Regions from separate parts of the Homo sapiens genome. Here region 1 is linked to region 2. The links come from fine-mapping of genetic effects on gene expression. A gene starts in region 2. The other region holds a variant in brackets. All regions are shown on one strand. Distances are from middle to middle.

The links. PIP is the estimated chance that this variant, and not a neighbour inherited with it, causes the effect.
Region 1: its variant is fine-mapped to the expression of SNED1 in whole blood (TOPMed, PIP 0.97).

The regions. Positions count from the first base shown.
Region 1 is chr2:241,058,413-241,067,967 of GRCh38, forward strand. It overlaps SNED1 (sushi, nidogen and EGF like domains 1), which reads left to right. Exons shown (of 32, transcript NM_001080437.3): 17 at 4,379-4,492; 18 at 5,175-5,288; 19 at 5,600-5,713; 20 at 6,432-6,545; 21 at 6,887-7,183; 22 at 9,352-9,535. SNED1-AS1 (SNED1 antisense RNA 1) reads right to left here and starts at 5,706. Exons shown (of 3, transcript NR_187212.1): 1 at 5,668-5,706. It also overlaps a transcript of MTERF4 not described here. RefSeq lists a silencer at 5,655-5,814. The variant C/T (reference allele first, on the strand shown) is at 5,300.
Region 2 is chr2:240,993,940-241,003,494 of GRCh38, forward strand. SNED1 (sushi, nidogen and EGF like domains 1) reads left to right here and starts at 4,679. Exons shown (of 32, transcript NM_001080437.3): 1 at 4,679-5,111. The coding sequence starts at 4,899. RefSeq lists a silencer at 4,311-4,730.

The sequences.
Region 1 (9,555 bases), 64 kb after region 2:
GTAGAAGGAAAGAGGAATAAAGGTAAAAGCCATAATTAATGAAGTAGAGATCCAAGATACAAAAGAAAGGACAAGCCAAAATTAGTTCTTTGAAAAGCCTAATGTAACATGTTTAGTGGATATAGATTACAACAAAATTAATTATGTGCTTATGTATCAGCAACCAACAATTAGAAAATGTAATTATAAAAAAGACAGATACAGAGAAAGATCAATGAAACCAAAAGCTATTTCCTTGAAAAGATCATTAAAATTGGGCCGGGCGCGGTGGCTCATGCCTGTAATCGCAGCACTTTAGGAGGCCGAGGCAGGCACATCACAAGGTCAGGAGATGGATACCATCCTGGCTAACACGGTGAAACCCCGTCTCTACTAAAAATACAAAAAATTAGCTGGGCGAGGTGGCGGGCGCCTGTAGTCCCAGCTACTCAGGAGGCTGAGGCAGGAGAATGGTGTGAACCTGGGAGGCGGAGCTTGCAGTGAGCCAAGATCGCACCACTGCACTCCAGCCTGGGTGACACAGCAAGACTCTGTTTCAAAAAAAAAAAAATCATTAACATTGATAAACCCTAGCTAGACTGATCAGGAAAAAAAGAGAGAAATTAGCAAGATCAAAATAGAAAAGGAGATCCTACCTCGTGTTTACAGTGGAGTCCTTTAAACATTAAAGATCCTGCCAGTACTTAAAGGACAAGAGAACACCTATGAGCAATTTTAGGCCAATGTATCTGACAACTTAGGGGAAATGGATACCCTGAAAGACAAATTACCAGAACTGACACAAGAATAATAGAAAACATATACAGCCTTATATCTGTTACACTTAATTTGTAATTAAAAACCTTCCTCAGAACAGCTGTGTCAGATTGCTTCACGGATGAATTCTACCAAATGTTTAAGAAAGGAATGATACCAACTTTGTACAACCTCTTTTAGAAAGAGCTACATATTTTTTAGAAAATCTAGGAGGGAAGAACACTTCTCATTTGATACCAAACTCAATTGATACCCAACTTATTTGATAACTTCTCAACTCACCTTGATACCAAAACCAGACACAGACACTACAAAATTTGAAGTTACAGACTGGTATCTCTCAAGAACATAGACACAACAATCCAAACAAAATATTACTAAGTCAAGCTCAGTACTATATAAAAGAATGATACAGTCATGACCAAGTGGGATTTTTCTCAAGGACACAGGTTGGTCTAACTTTTAATGTCAATCAATGTACTTCATCATATTAGGAGATGAAAGAGAAAACTATATATCTCAATAGATGCAGGAAATTATTTGACAAATTCAACTGGTATTTAAAATTCTTAGTCAACTAAGAGTAGAAGATAATTTCCTCAACCTGATAAAGGACATCCATTAAAAACCTCAGCTACCAGTGTACTCAGTGGTGAAAGACTCCACCTGGAATCCGTACAAGGCAAGGTGTCCATTCAGTACGTATTCCCAGCATTTTCCTGGAGGCCCTAGACAGTGCCAGATGACAAGAAAAGGAAATAAAAGGAAGGAAAGGAAGAAAGAATTAGAGATCACATGATTGTATGCATAGAAAATCCTAAGGAAATTCTACAAAAGAAGCTATAGAACTAACAAGTGAATTCAACTAGATCCCAGGATACAGGGTCAGTATATAGAACCTGTTGTAGCAGTGAACACTTTGAAATGAAAGTGTTACATTAATAGCATCAAAAACATGATAAATTTTTAAATGCGTAAAAGGAACTATAAACATAAATGTAAAAGCTAAAACTATAAACTTTTTTTTTTTTTTTGAGACAGAATCTCACTCTTGCCCAGGCTGGAGTGCAGTGGCACAATCTCGGCTCACTGCAACCTCCGCCTCCCTGGTTCAAGCGATTCTCCTGCCTCAGTCTCCCAAGTAGCTGGGATTACAGGCACTCACCACCATACCCAGCTAATTTTTGTATTCCTAATAGAGACGGGGTTTCACCATGTTGGCCAGGCTGGTCTTGAACTCCTGACCTCTGGTGATCCACCCGCCTTGGGCTCCCAAAGTGCTGGATTACAGGCGCGAGCCACCATGCCCGTCCCTAACTATAAACTTCTAAAAGAAAGAAATACAAAAGCATATGAGAAAATATTCATGAGAGCTGGAATACAATGGTTTTGTACTTGGAAAAATATTATATTGGTTCTCTATTTTTCATACACTGGAATTAAATCCAGGTGGATTAAAGACCTAAATGTTTCTTTAAAAAAAAACTATACAGGGCCGGGCACATGGCTCATGCCTATAATCCCAGCACTTTGGGAGGCCAAGACAGGAGTTTTGTTTGAGCCCAGCCTGTGCAGCATAGAGAGACCCCCAACTCTACAAAAATAAACTAAAATTAACCAGGCGTAGTGGCATGCACCTGTAGTCCCAGCTACTCAGGAGGCTAGGGTGGGAAGATCACTTGAAACCGGAGTTCAAAGCTGCAGTGAACTGTGATTGCACCGCTGCATTCCAGCTTGGGGGACAGGGTGAGACCCTGTCTCAAAAAAAAACAACCAAAAAAAACTATATAATTTTGTGTGGAAAATATAGGTAAATATATTTTTGACTTTGGGGTAGTGAAAGACTCCTTAAGCCACAAAAAGAATTTAAAAAGAAATGATGAACATACTTGACCATATGAAAATTAGAACCTAAATCCATAAACCTTAAGAAAGTGAAATCTAAACTACAAACTGGGAGAAGAGATAAATAGTCTCAAGACTACATGAAGAACTCTGATAAATCAATGAGAAAACAACCTAATAGGAAAATAGAAAAAAAAACATGCATAGGCATTTCATGGAAGAAGAGATACAAAAGGCCAACAAACATAAAAAGAAATATTCTATTTCATTAGTAATCAGGGAAATGCAAATCAAAAGTGCAATGAGGTACATTCAGCTGGTAAATTTTCAGAAGTCTGAAAAGCCTATACCGGTGAGAATGTGGATCAACAAGATTTCTTATGCATTGCTGGCAAGAGTATAAATTGCTAGAAGCACTTTGAAAACAATGTGGCACTCTGCCTGTTGAGCAATCTGCCCACTGTTGCTCATTTACGTCAACTGTGTTCCAGCAATTGCACTTCTGGGTATAAACCTAAGAAAAACTTCACGTCTGCACCAGGAGATGGGAAAGAATATACACAGCAACATTTTTTGTAAAAGCAAAAAGTCTAGGCTGGGCGTAGACTCATGCCTGTAATCCCAGCACTTTGGGAGGCTGAGGCAGGCGGATCACGAAGTCAGGAGTTCGAGACCAGCCTGGCCAACATAGTGAAACCCCATCTCTACTAAAAATACAAAAATTAGTCGGGCATGGTGGTGGGCGCCTTTAGTCCCAGCTACTCGGGAGGCGGAGGTTGTGGTGAGCCAAGATCATGCCACTGCACTCCAGCCTGGGCAACGAGCGAAACTCCATCCCCCCAAAAAAAAAAAAAGAAAAAAAGAAAACAAAAAAAGGAAAAAGTCTAGAACCAACCCAAAGACCCAGCCAGTGAGAATGGGTGAAGTATGATATAACCACACTGTGTAATGTTATTCAGCAGTGAAAATCTATGAACCACAGTGACCTACAGTGTGGAGTTCTCTTCTTCATATAATGCTGAGAGAAGACAATATATATCATGATGTACTATGAATAAAGTTCATAAACAACAAAAACATTCACTATTGTTTAGGCAATTTATAAAATTTTTAAGCTAATTTTAATTACATATTTTACTGCCAGAAAACCTAGTTTTTAAAGACAAGGAAATTATAAACCCAGAGATTCTTATCGCAAGGGAAGAGAAGGGTACACGGTCGGATGAGCCCATTCAGCATTCTGGCTGCCGGGGTGGCTGCTAGTCCCAGATGTCACTAAGTCATTACCATTTATTTACTTTTTAAGCATGAAATTAAACTTTAAAAAAATAAATATTTAAATTCAGGAGCACAACTCCCGCTTGAAAAGAAAGCTGTGGTGAATCATTTAAAACCAAGATTTGTCCCAGATGGACTGGTTTCACAGGTGACTATTATACATTGAAATGGCAAGATGGGACATGAGACATTTTCTGTCAAACCCCTGAGGCCTTTGTCCTGTCGGCCTGAACCACTGGAATTAAGTCCCACAGCGTCTTCTGGGAGCCCTGGGGTGGTTTCAAGCCCGCCCTGCTGCTTCACAGACACAGCCAGGCACTGAGCCCCAGGCCCACTGCCCTGCCCCGACTCCAAGGATATCCAGCCCTGGTCTCTGGCCTTTCCAACCACTGATGATGTATCATCGAATTCTGTCTGGCCCCTCAGGACTAGTTTATGTGCATCTTAATTTGGCTTAATCGTGGCCACATTGCTTTATTCTTGGGCTCTCTCCTCTCAGAAATCGATGAGTGCCGGTCTCAGCCGTGCCTGCATGGGGGCTCTTGTCAGGACCGCGTTGCTGGGTACCTGTGCCTCTGCAGCACAGGCTATGAGGGCGCCCACTGTGAGCTGGGTAAGAGGGGCCCTGGCCCCGCTGGGGTGACAGCTGCAGCACACTGGCCATGTGCCTGAGGCACTGGGTCCCCCGGACAGGTCTCTGTCTGGATGGCCAGGGTGGCCACTGCATGCTTTCTCGGGCCCCTGCCAGCTCTGACATCCAAGACAAAGATTTTACAAATATCCCTTCCTGCACCTCCCCAGGGGAGACTGAGAGCCCAGCTGAGAAATGCTGGCCTGGCTTCAGGGCGCAGAGAAGGTGGGCGTCGGAGAGGGCAGGTCACAGTCTCTGACACCTGGTCGGTGCTTCCAGCCAGTGGAGGGAGGGGAGGCCTGCCCCATGAGCCCTGCACACTCTTGTACCTCGCTAGGGCTCTAAGCCTGAGAAACGCAGGCTCCAGGGAGGGCAAGGCCCAGGGAGCCGTGCCCAGTCGTGGCCCTGGGGAGCCTCCCATTGCGGAGTGGCCTGGAGGAAGGCATGGCCTGGAGGTGGGGCTTTGCCAGCAGGCAGTGGAGGTGGCACGCCTCCCGAGGAGGGGTGGGTTTGGGGCTGATGGAAGAAAAAGCACATGTCCTGAGTAGTTGCTCCCAGCTGGGAAAGGGGTAACTGAAGCCCCAGGAAATGCACGGAATCCTGGGGGCATGTGGGCGCCTCAGACTTGAGCCAGCAACACCCTTGACACCCCTTCTCTGTGCAGAGAGGGATGAGTGCCGAGCTCACCCGTGCAGAAATGGAGGGTCCTGCAGGAACCTCCCAGGGGCCTATGTCTGCCGGTGCCCTGCAGGCTTCGTTGGAGTCCACTGTGAGACAGGTAGGGGCTCC[C/T]TCCAGTGGGCCCCACATGCAGAGCCTGGGCCTCTGGAAGATCAGAGAGGAGGTGGGGCATCCCCACATTCCCTGCTGGGCAGGCCACCTGGGGAGAGGGACCCCCAGGGCTGCGGCCACCTTGGGAGGGAGGGGTGGAGGTGAGGGTGCTGGGGAGGGCTGAGGGGCGGGACCTGCCCACTGCCCCTCTCTCCTGGCCTCCGCCCCTAGACTCCTCCTTTCCCTTCTTCCCGCTGTCCTCTCCTCCCTCCCCCAGACTCCCCCCTTGCAGCTTGGGCCCACTCTCTGGGTGTTCTCCAGAGGTGGACGCCTGCGACTCCAGCCCCTGCCAGCATGGAGGCCGGTGTGAGAGCGGCGGCGGGGCCTACCTGTGCGTCTGCCCAGAGAGCTTCTTCGGCTACCACTGCGAGACAGGTAGGGCGGCAGGCCTGCCTGCTCCCCGCCCTCTGCCCGCCTGCTCCCCGCCCTCTGCCCGCCTGCTGCCCGCCCTCTGCCCGCCTGCTCCCCGCCCTCTGCCCGCCTGCTCCCCGCCCTCTGCCCGCCGCCTTGGAAGTCCCCTTCTCAGGCCAGTGGCCCTCCGCCTGTCTCCCTTGGTCCCACAATGGTGCCTTCTAAACCTCCCCATCTCCTGCGCTCACCCCCCAGACACCCCTCTTCACCCGAGGACACACCCAGGGGTGGGGCCTCACGTCCACACATAGGCCCTGCTGCCCTTGGACAGGCCAAGTTTCTTGCACACCCAGGTCTGGCCCCTGGCTGTCCTTCCATCTGGAACATTCTCCCTAATCAGCCCCCAGTGGGATACCTCCTGATGAGGCTTCCCTGACCACTGACCTCCCCTCCTCAAGCAGGACTGTCACTGGGGTGGTGGCCTGTCCTGTCCTGATCCAGTGTCTCCTCCCCTCAGCCAGTCCGGCTGGTGGCACTCCGCTGTGGAGGGTGGAGGAGCTGCTGGGTTGGGCCCCGCAGGGCAGTGGAGGTGGCAGAACCGAAGGGAGGCAGTAGCTGTCCTGTGCCCCCCGCCCCTCCACACCCACGCAGGAGGGACCCAGTGCCCCAGGAGCAAGGGCGGGGCTGGAGCAGGGACCCCTGGCCACGCCCCAACATACACTGCCACTTTTTCTCCCCTCAGTGAGTGACCCCTGCTTCTCCAGCCCCTGTGGGGGCCGTGGCTATTGCCTGGCCAGCAACGGCTCCCACAGCTGCACCTGCAAAGTGGGCTACACGGGCGAGGACTGCGCCAAAGGTGGGTGGCGAGGGCGCCTCCAGTGAGGGAGCCACGAGGGGGTCCCCTCTCCCTAGAGGGCCCAACGGTCTCCAAGGGCAGAGCGTCTGGCCGCTGCTTGCCCAGGCCCCTTCCCTGAGGAACAGGGAGGGGATAAAATCCCCCGGTGGGCTTGAAACACGGTCACACATTCAAAAGTGTGACCCTCCTGGAGGTACGTGGCCAGGGACAAAGAAGGACTCTGCCAGCGATGGCTGTGTCAGGCCCAAGAGCCAGACCCGGCTGAGCCGCCGACGGGAGCCAGGCATGCATAGCTAACGGCTGACCAGTCCCCTCCCCTTGTTTTGACCCAAACCCTGAAGAGCTCTTCCCACCGACGGCCCTCAAGATGGAGAGAGTGGAGGAGAGTGGGGTCTCTATCTCCTGGAACCCGCCCAATGGTCCAGCCGCCAGGCAGATGCTTGATGGCTACGCGGTCACCTACGTCTCCTCCGACGGCTCCTACCGCCGCACAGACTTTGTGGACAGGACCCGCTCCTCGCACCAGCTCCAGGCCCTGGCGGCCGGCAGGGCCTACAACATCTCCGTCTTCTCAGTGAAGCGAAACAGTAACAACAAGAATGACATCAGCAGGCCTGCCGTGCTGCTGGCCCGCACGCGTGAGTGTCCCCGAGCCTGGCCGTCCCTGCCCAGCCCCTGCCCCTCGAGGGCAGCGCTGGCCCCGGCACCTGCAGGGCGGCTGTCATGCCGTCCACCCTCCTAGTTCTTGCAGCAGCAAGACAGACAGCTGAGCTGGGGGTTGGAGGCACCGCCCTGCTGGAGACAGAGCTGTGTGGGAGTGGCCTTGGGTCCACAAGATACAGGCATGGGATTGGGGCGCATAGAATCGAGCCAAGAGTGGGAGCAGCACAACCCCCAGGCATGGAGCTAGGAAGTGGGACTGGGGAGGAATGGGGGCTTCCCAAAAGGGTCCCTAGAAGGAGCCAGTGTGGGAGACAGGGGCCGCGGGGGTGGGCTTGGGGGGGCTGGGACTCTGGGGTGCTCTGAAGGCCTGGGGAGAGTTTGAAAGAGGCACCTGCTCACAGGGATATGTAGGCGCTGAGGTGTGCTAAGGGGAGGCATCGGTGGCTCAATCGGGAAGAGCCGTGGGGCAGGCCCTAGATGGAATGACAGACCCAGAGCCTCCACCTGGAGCTGGCACTGAAAGCTGTGACCAGATGTGACCCCTGAAGAGGGGGTCCTAGGAGGAGCCTCCTCAGAGCCTGAGCCACCAAGATTGCAGGGGAGGCCCGGGTTGTGCACAGCCTGTGGGGTTGTTGCCGTGTCGGGGAGCAGAAGATGCTGAGCGCTCTAGGGAAGGCGTCAGGGCTTAGCGGGCTTGTGTGCTGCTGGGAGGGATTCTGGGAAGGAGAAAGGAGCCCTAGAACATGGCAGTGGACGGACAGGGGCAGGGCCGGAAGAAAGCAGAGGGCTGGCCTTCCACGGAGCCCGGCCGCATCAGCTAGAGCACAGGGGATCTCGGAACAGGCTGGGCAGGAACCAAGTGGGGTGCAGGGCCATGGGGCCATGGGACTCTCACCCAACATGCCTGTGGCCTCCAGACACAGGAGCAAGAATGGGGAAGGGGTGCTAGAGGCTCGAGGAAAGAGGAAAAGGTGCTGAGAGCACAGACTGCTGCGAAGTGGCGTGATGGATGGATGGGTGGGTGGGTGGCCAGGGCTTCAGGGAGGCCTAAGCATCCAGCAGGGCCCTGCGGGGCGGCCACGTGAGTTTGGTGAAACCTATGGGTAGCATGGCGGGTAGGTGGGGAGGAGCTCGGCGGTTCTCACAGGAGGAAAGCCTCCTGGCCACACCTGGGCCCTAGCTTGATGCCAATGCCAAGGGCATTGAGGGACAGGAGAAGGCATTCAAGGCAGCTTGAGCCCACCCAGAGGCCCACAAGGGCCTGTCCTGCAGGAGTTGACCACCAAGGGGCTGGAGTTCCCAACACAGCAAGGACACAGAGCACACCTCGGCCAGTGGAGAGCCTGGGCGCATGTGCGGGTGGCACTGAGCAGGTGTCAGCAGGAGCTGCCAGGGGCTGAGTAGGGGTGGCTCGCCTGGGCTGTTTTAGGAAGAAGCACCTGCAAGGCCGCCCCATGTGAGATCTGCCCTCGGAAGGTATCTGGAGTGAAGACAGAGCCCGCCCTGCCCGCTGCAGAGTTGGGGCTCCAGCCAGCCATGGTGGGTGGAAGGGACCGCTGTCCACAGACCGGGGTGCTGAGTTGCCGGGAGCTGAGCGCTGCCCTCTGGGCTCTGCCTGGTGCATCAGCAGTGGCACTGGAGCTTCGGAGGAGACTGGCTGGGCGGGAAGCGGAGCTCACAAGTGGCCCCTTCCCTGCAGTTGCTGGGAGTTCTGTATGTCTGTCCTCCTAAGACAGCGTTGCCCAGACCAGGCCCGGATGTGTGCTCTTAGACCAAAATAGTCAACTGGCACAGAAAAGGGGAGGTCCGGGTTACTCATGTCCAGAGGGACTCCGGCCCATCCCCTGCCATGTCACTGCCACATCTAAATGGAGACTAAGACCCCTGCCTCTGGTAAGACGGGCTGGCCCACAGCGGGCTCTGCAGCCGTCATGCTCACAGCGGGTTCTGCAGCTGTCAGCCCTGGAGGCCAGAGCCTGGGCATCCCACTCAGCCCGAGTTCCCTGAGCAGTTGATGGGACACCCTCTCCAGTGCCTCTCTGTGGCCCCCAGCACCCTCCCAAGCCTGGTTTCATCTTGAGCCCCTGCACTCCCCCAGGAGCAAGGAGGGGCCGGCACCTGCTGAACAGTCCATTCCCCCTAGGACCCCGCCCTGTGGAAGGCTTCGAGGTCACCAATGTGACGGCTAGCACCATCTCAGTGCAGTGGGCCCTGCACAGGATCCGCCATGCCACCGTCAGTGGGGTCCGTGTGTCCATCCGCCACCCTGAGGCCCTCAGGGACCAGGCCACCGATGTGGACAGGAGTGTGGACAGGTTCACCTTTAGGTAAGAAGGGACACCCAGAG
Region 2 (9,555 bases):
TACGTGAAGTATCGCCCAGGCTGAGGCCAGAAGCACTCAGCTAACGGTGGAGGCACTGTCACCTGCAGCAGCCACGGCTCTGGGAGTGCCATGTCCATCTCCTTGCTGCCATCCCCAGCCACGGTCCAGCAGGGCCAGGGTACTCGAGGGAGCAGCCCCTGAGGCCAGCCTGGTGGAGGCGGCGCAGATCCGTGATGTTCCCAAGGGGAGGGTACTCTCAGGGTCTACCTCTAGAACCCACAGAGAGTCTGGGTGTCAGTGAAAACTCAGAGGTGGCTCTCAGGCCTGTCCCTGCAGGGGATGGACCCCCAGAACCACCTCATGGAGCTGGAGCCACACATACGCTTGCGACCTTGGAGGCCTCCATGGTCTGGCTCTTCCTCTGCCTGCCCTCTCCGGTGGGCAGAGGTGATAAATGTGCCTGAGGTTTCCGAAAGCCAGGAGACCCTCCCCCACACAAGGCAGGGATGCAGGCAGGGGCCCAGCTCCTGTCTGAGACAGAACACAAAATCCCTTCGGATTCCTGCCACCCTTGAGGCTCGCCGAGGAATGTGGGGCACGCAGGGGCTGTTGGAGGGTCCCATCCAGCCTCTGGCCAGGAAGCTCCGACGCTCTGACAGGCCCTCAGGTGCCTGGGTCCGGGGGCAGCACCCTTTGCAGGCATCCAGGGGTTGCAGACCAACACAGGGAGGGGACAAATGGGAGAGGAAGGCCCCCTGGGGAGGGGGCACTGGAGGAGGGGCCATGTTGAACGCAGACGGCGGCACCCAAGGACAGGCCAGCCCTCTGAAGCACCCCAGGTTGAGGGAAGCACAAGCTTTGGTTGGCTGAAGCCGGGGCAGGAAGCCGGCCAGCTGGAACCAAGGGCATTGTTTATCTGGGCTTCCAAAACATTCATACTTTTCAAATTAATTGCAAAAAATGTTAGCAGGGAAACATAGAAAGGAGAATGTAACCACCACCATAATCTGTGACCTGCAGAGCCCCGAGGTGACACCCAACTCTCCCTTTTTCTAGCACACGTGTGCTTAGGACGGTTGAGGCCATAGCGTGGATGCTACTCAGAGTACTATTTTTTAAAACTTTTGCTTGACACAATACCGTTAGAGTTTTCCCGAATCACTAAAAACGTCTCAGAGCATGGTTTTTTTGCTGCGGAAGCTCCGGGGCATCGGAGGACCCTGGGCCTGAGTGTCCCTCCACTGCTGGCTGTCCCTGCCATCCTGGAGCCCACAGAGAATGGGGCTCTGTCCTGTCTTGGGCACTCAGGAGATGGACAAGGCTCTCAACGGGAGGCAGGGTCTCGTCATCCCCAGGACAGGGAGAGCCGATGCCTGAGCCCACGCAGCAGTGAACATCCTGGGAAGGAAGTGTTGAACCCCAGTCCCATCGTTTCCCTAAGAGCAACCACAGAAGTCCCGTCATGGGAGTCAATGTGTGTGCGGCTCCGTGTGCATGAGAAGAGGAGGTACAGGGCAGGCTGCATGGCCCCCACACTCCCTCAGGGCCAACTGCACCAAGACCCCAACCAGCCACACAGGACAGTGACCAGGTGAGCAGGTGGAGCGGCCCTTGGTCCCTGTGACCTCCTGGCCTCATTCCGGAGCATGTGGAGGTTTACTTGGGATCAGCGCTTCTGGGGCAGGGGACCTGCACTCCACCTGCCACTTCTGGGAGAGAAGGAGAGAAAGTTAGGGTGGGCTACAGCCAGCCAGCCCCTGCCCCTGGCAGCTCAGGCCTGAACCCCCAGGATCTTCCACCCTGTGAAGACCAAACAGGCCCAGCCAACCAGGTGCAGGTTGGGGAGGGCACCCCCACCTTGGCCTGCGTGGAGCCCCGAGTCCTGGGGCATCCTGAGGGCAGCTCCCGGGGCACCCCATCTAAATTGCACACACGCTCAGGCCCTAAATTAAAATGTCACAGGCCGGTTGGGGAGGCTCGGGTTTCCTGGCCACAGAACATGAGCCTGCTTGATAAAACAATTTTGGTTTTGATAAATGTGGATTTTCTGTGGCAGAGACAAAGGCGCCCTTGAGTCCAGAGGGGAGCCTAAAACAGCACATTGCTGAAAAGTATTTCCTGATAATATTTTTAGCACCTGAGAAAAACATTTTTTTTTCTCTTTTTTGCCTGCAGAGTTGTGTTGTTTTTTTTTTGTTTTTTTTTTTTTTAATGAAATGTAATGCCCAGCAGCAGCGGGGCCTTTTGTTAACCCCCAGCTCCCCGGGCCCGGCTGAAAATCTGCACAGGGTGCAGGCCGAGGCTGGTCAGCAGGGTACAGGCCCGAGGAAGTGTGGCCTCTCTGGGCCATGAGCAGGGTCTGGCCCACTGCCAGCCACGCCCCAGGCCCATGAGCTCTGACTCTCTGGGACGAGGACGGGCCTGAGCGTTTCCAGCACTGCTCAGCGACCCCCGTGAGGCCCACCAGCCCACCCGCCTGAAGAAACAGGCCTCCACTCGGTGCAGCCACTGAGTGCCACTGTGTGCCCCAAGGTGCCCTGGGCGGCCCTGCCCCCAAGTTGACCCAAACCCAGCCCAGAAATGGGTTGTTACCCAGGTCCCTGTCTTGTGTGCTCAAGAGAAGGTCAGCAGTGGGGAGAAGGGCGCCTGGCCTGGGCAGCTGGCTGGGAGGCAGCACCCCAGGCTGGGCTCTGAGAGCAGAGCAGGAGCATGTGGTGGGAAGTGGATGGGTAGTAGGGACAGGGCAGGAGGTGGGCCAGCCCTAGTGGGGGTCAAAGCCTCACGTCCCCATGACAACACCTCTTCAGCGGAGAAATCCTGCCCTGGGGTTGGCACTGCCGCCTCCCACCTTCGCAAACTCACCGGAGGGGCCTTCCAGCCAGGCCCCAAATGCACTGAAAAGAGGGTAGAGGGCTGCCAGGTTTTTCTAGAAAAAAGACAAATAGAAAAGCGTTCTCCCTGATTCCCGCCACGGTGACGCCTGGCAGCTCTGTTCCCAACGCTGCTACATGGGGCCTTGTCCTGACTCCACGGCCTGTGCCAGCCAGAGGTGGGAGCAGCCCTCCCTGACCAGGGAGGCCAGGGCTGGGCTGAGGAAGGGGTTAAAGCATGTTCTTGAGGCCCCACGTATGGGCATATGCTGCCTCCGTGCATGTGAATAAGTATGCATGTGTGCGTGGACGTGTGTGCATGTGCGTGGAGACATGTCTCTCCTTGCCAGGCTCTCACCGAGAGCCGGCCTCAAGTAGGGATTCTACAGTTCCACGCCCTCTCTGGTGCCTCCCTCCAAAGACAGGAGGCCTTGACCTTTCTGGCCCTGGAACCATGGCTGTGCTGCTGTCCTGGAGCTCTGAAAGCTGGGACGGTGACCTAAGGGCTAACTGCGGGACAGAGCCCTTCCCCTCCCAGGCCCAGTTTGCCTCTCTGCAAACAGAATTGCCACCCCATGCAGGGTGGGAGAGGCGCCAGGGGCAAGCTTTCAGGAGGTGCCAGTGCAGGGTCAGCTCCTCCTTAACAATTCTGCACCCGGCCCTGACACCAAGTCTAAAGGGTCATGAACCTCTGAGTGAAAACACCAAGTGCAGGATCTGTGAGAACCGGCAACACCCAGTCACACGCAGAGAACCCTCCGCTGCTTCTTAAAAATAACATTGACTGTGCCTGGCTCTCACTGAAAAACAACACGTGCTCACTTGAGATATTTCAGAAGATACAAACGCAAAGACAAACAAAAAACCACCCAGCACCTCAGTGGTAGATGCAGTTACCATCAGCCCGGCCTTTCCTGCTTGTCTTCGAGGGGTGCACTCTTATCTTTGGGGGCCCCAGTGTGGCACGCAGCCAACACCACCCAACACCAGGATCTAAGAGAAGAGACCACGGTGGGCCGGGTGAGTTCCAGGAATCAGACCCTGCCATGGGCCTGGGGACATAGAGGTGGTCCCGGCTGAGGCCCTGAGGAAGGACAGACAGGCAGCCCAGGCCAGCAGCCCAAGAGACAGGGGGCAGGGCTGGCAGGCCACAGGGTGGGGACCCTGAATTCAAATACTGGGACTCAGAGTCCTGCCCCCACCTGCCAAGGCCGGTGTCATGCACGCACTTGCCCCCAGGGCCTGAGTGGGTCAGTCTTCCCCACGGAGGGTTTGCTTTACCCAGGGGTCGCCCCGAGGTCCCGAGCCTCCCAGGAATTTCTCCTGATGCGGCCACGCAGATGCAAACACTTTGTTCCATGCCTCCTAGTCTCCGGCCCGGGCTCTTCCTCACACAGACCCAGGCAGGGAGTGGGCTCCGGGGTTAGTCTGCCCCTGTGGCTGGAAGCCTGGCGTCCCCATGCTCAGGGCTGGGAAGGGGGCAGCACGGAACGGGTTCATTCAGGCACTGCCTGGCCAGGGTCCCCTCCCGCCCCCCGCGTGATGACACGCCTTCAGGGCGGGCCCAGCGTCTCAGGCCTTAGGGACACAGGTCTGTCCCAGGACGGCACTGAGGGCCCAGGCGCCTCCACCAGGGTAGGGACCCAGGGCGGAGCATGGCCCCACCACAGGGCGCGCGCCCGCAGAGCCCTCACCTTGCCTGTGCCCACGCCAGGGGACTGAGCTCCCCGCGCGCCCGCGCCCTCCCACGGGGCCTGGCGCTTTAAGAGACGCCCGATTTGCATGGCCCCGCCCCCCCGAGTGACCGCCGGGCTGGATATTTAAATCGTGGCCCCAGGGGCGGGGCTGGCCCCGAACGCGGTCCCGCCCGGCGCTTTCCTCTGCGGAGCTGCGGCGAGAGCGCGGCCCGGCCGAACGGGCGCGGGACGCGGAGCCCCCGACGGCGCGGCCAGCGGGCGCGCCCGCGCTCCCCGCACCCCGCCTGGCCCTGCCGGCCACCCCCGCGCGCAGCCTAGTCCCCCAGCGCCCTGCTCCGCCAGCGCCCCGTCCCGCCCGCACACCTCCGCGATGCGGCACGGCGTCGCCTGGGCGCTGCTGGTGGCCGCGGCCCTGGGGCTTGGGGCGCGCGGGGTGCGCGGCGCGGTGGCCCTTGCCGACTTCTACCCGTTCGGCGCCGAGCGCGGCGACGCCGTCACCCCCAAGCAGGACGACGGCGGCTCGGGGCTGCGGCCGCTCTCGGTGCCCTTCCCGTTCTTCGGTGCCGAGCACTCCGGACTCTACGTGAGTAACCCCCGGGCTCGCGGGGCGCCCGGGAGGGGAGGGAGCTGCGCCCCGGCCGCTGCCCGCCGGGCCCGGACTCCCGCCGCCGCCGCCAGCCACTTGGCACCGGGGCGGCCCGAGGTGGAATGAGGACAGCGCTTCCTCCTCGGCGGCCAAGGCCGGACAGCGGCCCGCGGGAGAGGCGCGCGGGCGGGGCGGGGGCGGCAGCCGCCGGGCACCGAGGCGGGGGCGAGTGGAGCGCGGCGCCCCGGCCCCTGCCAGACCTGCCGAGCGCGTCTTCCCGGCGCCTGATTCCCAGGGGAGAGCAGGGGTCCTGGTACTGCCCTGGTTTTCACACATGGCAATGTGGCCGTGGGCACGGGCTTCCCGGGCCTCAGTTTCCCAAGTGGGGCGCCGGGCCTGCGAAGGTTGCAGCCCCTCCTTGGGCCATTTCAGCCCCGCCCCCCGTGGACGCCAGTGCGGCCCAGAGCCAGGAGGCTGGACCCCTTGCCCAGGCGCTCAGGGCAGGGCCTGCTTCTTCGCTGACCCTCCTAGGCGGGCTAGCAACAGGCTTGCCCCTCCCTGCCGTCCTCTCCGCAGTCTGGGGGCTGGCCGCTCAGGCTCAGACTCTCCAAACAGGACTCCCAGTGGGACTCCTGGGGCCAGGGACTCATGACAGCAGGCTCAGCTCAGCTGAAGGAACAGGCCCGAGTGCCGGTTCTGTCTCCATGGCTCCCAGAGTGTGACCCCAGGCCAAGCCCTTATGGCAGCCCAGGGAATGAAATGCACCTGGTAACTGCATGGAGCACTCGCCCTGAGTAGGCCACGGTGCACTGGTACCTGGTGGTTCCCTGAAACACCCCAGATCATATCTAGAAAACTGCTGGGCCAGCCTCAAGTAGAGTCCCCTCCAGCTCCGTCACCACGGCCACCTCCACCATCAGCCCTCTCATACCCTCGCCCACCTCCAGCCTCAACCCACTGCCAGCCACATCGCCTCTGCCATCTGTGCTGCCCGGAGTAACACCACCTGTACTGCCAACTCCTCCGTCAACACCACCTCCTTCAACCCCACCACCAGCAGCACTGCCTCCACCACCACCTTCCCCATGGTCCCCAGCTTCCCGTCGTCACCATCCACATCCTCTGCATGGTTGTCATCATCCCTCCCCACCTCCATCCACAGGGCCTCCTCCACCACATGCCCTCTAGTGCGCCTCCCACCCCACAACTGCCAACACCATCCACAGCGCCCACTGCGTTTTCCACACCTGCTCAGGAAGGCCTCCCCACCTCGGTGGCAGCACTGGGTGACCTGACTGGTGGGAGGGGCAGCCATGCTGTCGGTGCTACCCCCTGAAAGTCCCTCTGGACCGGGACTTGGACAGAGGAACGGGACTGACTCCTGGAAGTACGAAGTGGGTAGGACAGAATGGTGCTCAGCGTTGGCCCGAGCTGGAGGAGGCCTGTCCACTTGAGGTATGGGACACTCACATTGGCACCATCCGAACAGAACTCAAGAGGCTCCTTAAGCATTTGGGCCAGGCTCAGCTTTCCCACTCACAGTCACAGGTGAAAATATTATTAAAATGGTTAACCCACTTAACAGCCTCACCAAAAACATCTGCCCTTGCCAGAGCAACTAGGGGAAACAGCTCTAACGTGGGAAGATCTGCTAGGAGAACTAGGGTTTCGTCAGAAATGAACCTTCTGGCTGCTAACAAAACATTTATCTCCATCGGAGCTTTTTCCTGAAACAAAGATATTATTTGAAAACCATTTGCCGATGTGGACACAGTGCCTGCAGTGCACTTCACCTTTCTGTTTGCTCAGCAGGAGGCTTGAGGCTGCGTTGCCCAGGACACCTTGCCTGAAGTAACTGTGCGGACTCTGTGGTCAAGCAGGGAGAGAGAAAGGGGTGCTTGGCAGCAGGTTAGGGCTGAAGCCAGGTGGAAAGAAGGGAGGCATTTGTTCTGAAGGAAGTGGACCTGCCTGGGGCCTCCCACGCCCACCCAGGCCGAGCGGACCCTCTTCTGAGGCCCCTGGCTCTGGCCCTTGTCCAGCTCCAGTCTATAGGGGCCTCGTGTCTGCTGGCCCTGGACTCAGACTCCCATGTCAGGCCCAGCCAGGACCCTCCAGCCCCCATCCCACTGCAGTGACCTCTGCGCTCCTCCGCCCCCAGCCTGTCGCTTGACCAAGAGTAGGCTTGTTGTCTGAATGAATGAATGTGCCTCCCTCTGACACTGCCTGCAAGTCACAGGTAGAAATTAGAAGTGCTCTTGCATGAGATGGGTGCTTCTTCTGTCTTCATCAGAAATAGCACATGGATTACTGCCCTAGCAAGACAGCTCTGCCACACATGGAGTGGCCCCCTTTCCAGAAGGGACCCATTGTTTTGCTTCTTTCTCATGTCATAGTAGCTGTATGTGTGTGGTAAGTCGTAAGGCTCTGAAAAGTGTTGAAAGTGCATTTTATTGCTAAGGTTCTACACACAGACAAAGATAATGCAGCCGAGGAGCGTGGCGCGCCGAGGAGTGTGGCGTGCTGAGGAGTGTGGCATGCTGCCGCTATCCTGCCATGCAGGAACTGCCAGTGTCTGCATTAAGACGGAGCTTGCCGCGGTCTGTGGGGCTTATGCAGGTGGAGTGGTTTCCTAGGGGCAGGTGCAGGGAATGAGAGACGAAATCTTCCTGGTGCCCCCTACACTGAAGCTCCTGGCTCCAAGCACTGCCCCCATCCACAGCATGGTCTCTGGGCCATGGGAGGATCTCAGTTTCTTTGGCATCAGGACCCCCGACAGAGCCCTGAGCAGAGGCAGGGAGGATTTGAGGGTCAAGAGTGGGTGGTGCCCTGCAGAGCCCGCAGGCAAGAAGGAGGAATGTGGACAGTCAGACTGACCCTCGCTGGTGCTGGCTAAACCCCCACTCTGTGCCCTGAGGCTTCGTGCCACACCGCAAGTCTGCTGGCTCTGGCTCTGCACAACATTACCATCCAGGCACAGTCCCGGCCCTACCCCTCCCAGAACACGGAGCCCAGGGCAGCTGCTCTGGTGTGGGAGTTCACATGCAGCCTGTGACCTTTGCCTGGTCATTTCCTCCCTGAGCCTCTGTCTCCCCATCTGTGTGGTGAAGCTCCCCCATCAGGTCATACCTGTGACACACCCCATCACTGTCACGGTTGTGTGGTCGCCAGCTCCAAGCCATCTGGAAAATCCACCCTGACCCACAGGGACTGTCTCAGTGGGACCGAGGCCTGCGCATGAGTGGATCTGGGAGCAGACATGTGGGGAGAAATCACTGCCATCTCTGCTCTCTTCTGAGCTCATGGAACACCCCAGCAAATGCAGGAGCCCCTTGGCTGGGAGGAGGGTCCTGGGCTTCCCCTTGGCTGCCCTATTCACTGAGGTTCCCGGGCTGGCCCACCCCCTGCTATGGGCTTGGCCAAGGTGGTCCTGCCCCTCATCAGCATGCCCTTCTTGCTGCTGCCTGGGTGTGACGGAAGCAGATGGAAGGGGATCCTGGGGAAGTGGAATGGGGCTGGAGTCGAGGAGGATGCTGGAGTGAGAGAGCCTGATGACTCCAGGTCAAGGCCATGAGCCCAGGACAGCTGTGATCTGCCTGGACCTCACAGGCAGCCCCTGAGAGGATGGAGCAGGACGTCATGCCCAGTGCAGATGAGGAAACCGAGGCTCAGAATGCAGATTCAGGGGCCTTCAGACTCCTGCGTCCAGCTGCCTCTTACTGTGCCACCCCAAACTCAGTGGGACCCAAACAGAAGTCCTGCTTCCTCCCTGGCGCCCACCCATCTCCATGAATAAACCCCTGAGAGCCTCCCCAATGCCTCCCTCCTCTCCCTCACCCTCCACGTCAGCAGCAGCTCCGCCTGCCTCTCTACTTGGACCACTTCCCAGCTGTCCATCCCCACTTGCCTGGACACCTGCAGCACCCCCTTGCTGACCTCCAGCTCTTGGCCTTTCCCTCCAGCCTGCCCTCCTCTGTGCAGAGTGACCAAGGGAGCCATACAAAACACCAGTGGGATCCTGTCTCTCCTCGCCAGAATCCCCGCTACGCTTCCCTGCCCCCCTCCGCCCTCCCCCGGGCCCCCCGCTCAGGCACTCCCCCAGCCCCACCCTCTGTGCTCACTGCAGCTTGTTGGTTCTGACCTCAGCTGGGTTGCTCCTTAGTTTTCTTGTTTGGGAGGTGTTGGGATGTGCACCCCATGAAGGCAGGGACCACATCCATCCTCATGCCACCATTCTGGTGTTGGGCTCAGAATAGGCCTCAGACGACAGCCTGGGGCTGCAGTGGTGGTGGTGCCCTGGTGAAGGACTCTCTCTTCCACCCCTGCTGAGGCCAGAGGATGCATGCAGCAAGATGCCTGCACCCTGAGCAGTAAGTCCTCCTGTGCCACATCCACATGGTGGGCTCATGGTCTTGGCCACCAGCACATTTCTGCACCGTGTGTT